Linked DNA regions of Homo sapiens: region 1 is linked to region 2. The links come from fine-mapping of genetic effects on gene expression. A gene starts in region 2. The other region holds a variant in brackets. All regions are shown on one strand. Distances are from middle to middle.

The links. PIP is the estimated chance that this variant, and not a neighbour inherited with it, causes the effect. A credible set is the group of variants that fine-mapping cannot tell apart.
Region 1: its variant is the best candidate, but not a certain one, in a credible set for the expression of KHDC1L in cerebellar hemisphere (GTEx, PIP 0.76).

The regions. Positions count from the first base shown.
Region 1 is chr6:73,248,407-73,251,207 of GRCh38, reverse strand. The region is part of intron 1 of KHDC1 (KH domain containing 1); the gene reads left to right. All of the region lies in intron 2 of LOC122539213 (KHDC1-KHDC1L), which reads left to right. Among named protein-coding and RNA genes, the nearest start is that of KHDC1, 13 kb to the left of the region's middle. The variant C/T (reference allele first, on the strand shown) is at 1,397.
Region 2 is chr6:73,224,352-73,227,152 of GRCh38, reverse strand. KHDC1L (KH domain containing 1 like) reads left to right here and starts at 1,657. Exons shown (of 3, transcript NM_001126063.3): 1 at 1,657-1,856. The coding sequence starts at 1,745. LOC122539213 (KHDC1-KHDC1L) reads left to right here. Exons shown (of 7, transcript NR_173146.1): 5 at 1,732-1,856. RefSeq lists enhancers at 2,573-2,801, 2,102-2,801.

The sequences.
Region 1 (2,801 bases), 24 kb before region 2:
GATAAAGTGGTAAGGATTTTTTGGTATTCAATAAGGCCAGAACTATTGCATATACATTTTGATTATAAATTATTTGGTGCTAGGCTGGGCACAGTGGCTCAGCCTATAATCCCAGAACTTTGGGAGGCCGAGGCGGGCAGATCGCTTGAGGTCAGGAGTTTGACGATAGCAGCCTGGCCAACATAGCAAAACCTGTCTCTACTAAAAATACAAAAATTAGCATACCTGTAATCCCAGCTACTCGGGAGGCTGAGGCAGGAGAATTCCTTGAACCCGGGAGGTGGAGGTTGCAGTGAGCCAAGATTGCACCACTGCACTGCAGCCTGGGCAACAGAGCGAGACTCGATTTCAAAAAAAAATTATTTGATGCTTAATATTCTGTAACTTGGAAAGTGCTTATGAATGAAAATAATCAAGATAAACTTTGTGCTTTTCACTCTTCAGGTTTTATGTGATAAAACATTGCTACCTACAGTTCATTGTCCCTCCTTGGAGAGTGGAACACTGCTGAGCGCAATCAATCAAAATGAGAGTAGTATGTAAAAGGGACCAGAATCATGTAGCATGATTTGAACAGCAAATAACAGGAAACACTGGTCCAGTTGGATGCTAATAAAGCACTGTATTATTGCCAATAGCAGGCATTCCAGGCATATTATGCCAAGGGCTCAAATTCAGTTTCTTGGTTTGCCTCCCTTTCCACCTTGTGTTGGCTTCCTCTTCAGGTTGGTAGCAAAATACTTGTAGCTATTTCCAAAATCATATCCTGCTATAAACACTGTGAGAAGGTAAGAATAGACAAGTTCTTTTTTGTGTCTCTCTTCAGAAATGAGACAACCTCTGCTGGAAGCCTCCTTTAGGTTTTGCTTCATTTCAAAACTGGGACATGTGCCATTTCCTAAAGCAATCACTGGCAGGGGAATTAGATTATCATGATTAGTTTAAACTAATCACCTGGAATTAAATTGATGTTAGGAGTTAGTGTCCATCAGCACTAAACAGGGTTCTATTTTTCTATATTTTGACATCATCTGTGAGTTGAAAAACTGCAACTGTGAGCCAGAGATTGACAGAGTGATAGAGCCACTGAATAAGACATGGATTTGTGACCTGGGAACATGAGAAGCCATGCTAAATGAAACCCATACATTTGAAGCTGTCAATTTCTCATAGATTATCATTTGTTCAAGTATAAGGAATCTTGAGAAACTCATGTAGGATGCAAGAGAAACTATATTTTATTTGAGTGCATATTTGTTAACATATTCCTGCTTTTTAAGTACTCTACCATCAGGCTGGGTGCAGTGTCTCATGCCTGTAATGCCAGTGCTTTGGGAGGCTGAGTCGGGAGGATCACTTGAGCCCAGGAGTTTGAGACTGCAGTGAGCTATGATCA[C/T]GACACTACTCTCTGGACTGGGTAATAGGGCAAGACCCTGTTTCTAAAAACAAAACAAAATAATAAAAACAAAAATAAAAACCCCTCTACCATCAGAAAGTTATTCACACTTTTGGTTTCAGATGTGTCCGTCTTTCTGTGAGTCCACATCCAGCAGAGACAGGCAAAGCTAAGAGCACCAGGGCTCCTCTCCTTCCTGTGTGTGTGCGCTTCCCATGAATATACGAAATAAAGATGATTACTTACTCCATGTGTTACACTTGCAAACCTTGCCTTTTTTATTGCTCTAAAATATGAGGTTACCAAGATTGTGCATAACTAGCATTAGACAACTCACTGCACACTATCTCTGACTCTGTATTTGTGGTCCTATGTGGTACTTTGGATAATATTATTTTCATAATTATGCATGAATAATTTTTCCAGCGGCACCAGCTGGCCCTAGCTGGCAGCCACCCCTACCCAGTACATAAGTACTTTGTTGTTTTTCAGAGATACTTTTTCAATGTTGAATATAATTTTTTTTTTCAAGAGACTGGGTTTCACTCTGTCGCCTCGGCTGGAGTGCAATGGCATGATCATAGCACACCTTGAACTCCTGGGTTCAAGCAATCCTCCTGCCTCAGCTTCCTGTTAGCCACCACACTGGTGAGCTGGATTTTTTTATTTTTTAAGCTTTAACACAAAAGTTAAATGGTTTCTTTATTTCACTCAAGGGTTAATAATTGAGAAAGTGATTATCAACATGTACACAAAGCTAACTAGAAGATTAGCTTTCTCAGTAGAAATCCAAGTGTCCTGTTAACACTGGTGTCACTTATAAATGTTCTGAAACTTTACCTTTTCTTTCTTTCTTTTTTTTTTTTTTGACTCCCAACATAAAGGCCATACTAGAAAACCTCAGGAATGTAATAATTTATTTGTAATTTTTTTTCTTCAAAAAATCCCTTGAAGTTCAGACATTAACACTGATACGCAATACCAAATAGCTCCACAGGACAGATGGAAACAGGAAAAGTCAGATGGTTGGCACTTAAAAGGAACAGTAATTAAGCAATTGAAAGTGGATTGGATTGTTGGTTAATATTTGTTCATTCGAAAGAATCAAGTGGAAGAGGTAGCCTCTTGGAAGAGGGAGATTAAGTTGCACCTGATGCTTCGCCTCACTGACCAAGGGGCTGGGATATCTTGTTAACTCCCTCTTTTCTGTTTAATTGCATTCTGTACTCTAATTTTCTCAGATTGTATATTCTATCTTATTTTTCCCTCTGGGCAAAAAGAAATCTTTCTGTTTACTTCACCCTAAGTCTTTCCTCTGAGAAAAGGCAGTCTTCTCTAACAAGGGAAAGAAAACCAGGAGGGAGAGAGGAAGGAGGGGGAAGAAGGGAAGATGAGAGAGAAGAGA
Region 2 (2,801 bases):
CTTTGCAACCTATTACTAGGACTAATAATCATTTTGTTTCTAGTAATTACCTGCATTTGACTAGTACATCCTGTTCAGTCTTTCTTTTTCTTTTTCTTTTTCTTTTTTTTTTTTGAGACGGAGTTTCGCTCTTGCCCCCAAGGCTGGACTGCAATGGCATGATCTCGGCTCATTGCAACCTGTGCCTCCTGGGTTCAAGTGATTCTCTTGCCTCAGCCTCCTGAGTAGCTGGCATTACAGGCGCCCGCAACCACGCCCAGGTAATTTGTGTATCTTTAGTAGAGACGAGGTTTCACCATGTTGGCCAGGCTGGCGGTGAACTGCTGACCTCAGGTGGTCCACGTGCCTCGGCCTCCCAAAGGGCTGGGATTACAGGCGTGAGCCACAGCGCCTGGCCTCCTGTTCAGTCTTAAATGCTACTGTGCAGTCATTATATTTTCACTTGTATATTTTGTACTAAATGTATATGAGAGACCAAATGTATGTGGATGCAGAGAATGTTCTCCCGATAACCTTGTGATCTGTGGACTCAGACAGTGGTGTAGATCTGAACCTCACAGATGAAAGTCCTGATGGCTGACTTTGTCTTTGGTCAAAAGAGGAGGATGAAAAGTGAAAAATCACCCAGGAACTTGCAGTGGGAAGCTGACAGGCCAAGCTGAATCTTCCCTACCACACACAAACATCTCCTGCAAAATTTTTTTTTTTTTTGAGACGGGGTCTCGCTCTGTCACTCAGGCTGGAGTGCAGTGGTGCGATCTCGGCTCACTGCAACCTCTGCCTCCCGGCTTCAAGCGATTCTCCTGCTGCAGCCTCCTGAGTAACTGGAATTACAGGTGTGCACCACCACACTCCGGCTAATGTATTTGTATTTTTAGTAGAGACAGGGTTTCAGCATGTTGGTCAGGCTGGTCTTGAACTCCTGCCCTCCTGATCCGCCCACCTCAGCCTCCCAAAGTGCTGGGATTACAGGCATGAGCCACTGCACCCGGCCGAAGAATATTTTAAGCAGTCAAGTTTGCTCAGTGATTGTCATGCAACAAGATATAGAAAGTCTATTCTGTAACTATATTTGAAACCAGAGAGAGATAACATTCTGCAGTGAAGACCACATTAGTCTCTCAACTTCCTAGATAAATTTACCAGAATAATCATCAAATTGCACCATTTTAGAGAACTGGCTCCTACTCCTTAAACACGCCTTGGACTGCCCTAGTCAACTCCTACAATGGGCTCCCTATGACACTATCCTATCAAGTTTATTTTCCTCTATTGTTTGCTCTCCCTTGACGCAACACACCAAATAAACCAAGTCGTGTTGGAATACACTGTGTGGTCACTGGGTGGCTGCCGACACCTGTGCAAATCTAGGGAGCCCATTTGGAGCCTTCCTGCACCTCCATACCCTCAACCCCCTGCTCCAAAATTCTTTGAATTTAGAGTGAAGAAAAATTTCTGATTCCAGGACATCAGAAAGCCAAGCACTTATCAGATGATTAAGTTTGACTTGAAAGAATTAAGCTCAGAGCAGATAATTACTTGGAATGAATTATCTTGGGAAGACCTCCGGGGATTGGACATCCACCCTAAGGTGGATCAAGGGGCGGGTTGTTTGGATTCCAACAACCCTTATTAAGGACAACCCTTTTTAAGGACAGAGCCTAGGCCCTTCCTCGCTTTTCCAAGTCTTTTGCCAACCAGTTTGTTAGACTTTCCCCTATTCTGAATCAGGTGGGAGCACAGCATGGCCGTGGGAACGAGTGCTCTCAGCAAGGAGCCGTGGTGGACCCTGCCCGAAAACTTTCATTCTCCAATGGTGTTCCACATGGAAGAGGACCAGGAGGAGCTCATCTTCGGTGAGTGGCCTTTGCCCACGTCCCCTCCTTCATCTGTTTTTTATTTTTATTTTTTTGAGACAGATTCTCGCTCGTGATCTTGGCTCACTGCAACGTCTGCCTTTTGGGTTCAAGTGATTCTCCTGCTTCAGCCTGCAGAGTACCTGGGATTACAGGCGCCTGCCACCACGCCTAACTAGTTTTTGTACTTTTTTTTTTTTTTTTTTTGAGACTCGAGACGGAGTCTTGCTCTGCCGCCCAGGCTGGAGTGCAGTGGCGCGATCTCGGCTCACTGCAAGCTCTGCCTCCCGGGTTCACGCCATTCTCTCACCTCAGCCTCCAGAACAGCTGGGACTACAGGCGCCCGCCATCACGCCCGGCTAATTTTTTTTGTATTTTTAGTAGAGATGGGGTTTCACCGTGTTAGCCAGGATGGTCTCGATTTCCTCACCTCCTGATCTGCCGGCCTCGGCCTCCCAAACTGCTGGGAATACAAGTGTGAGCCACTGCGCCCGGCCTCGTGTTTTTTTTTTTTTTTTTTTTTTTGATATGGAATCTCTGTCGCCCAGGCTGGAGTGCAGTGGCGCGATCTCGGCTCACTGCAAGCTCCGCCTCCCGGGTTCACGCCATTCTCCTGCCGCAGCCTCCCGAGGAGCTGGGACTACAGGCGCCTGCCACCACGCCCGGCTAATTTTTTGTATTTTTAGTAGAGACGGGGTTTCACCATGTTAGCCAGGCGTGTGTGGAACTCCTGACCTCAACTGATCTACCTGCCTCGGCCTCCCAAATTGCTGGGATTACAGGCATGAGTCACTGCGCTAGGCCGGCCTCCTTCATCCCCTTCTCGATTTTCAATCTTCCCCTCTCCTCCCACCTTCATGAGTCACACATCCCTACCCTCAAGGCCACCTCCTCACTCCCCAAGGACTGGTGGCTGACAGTTTCTCTTCTCACTTCTTGTGCTTA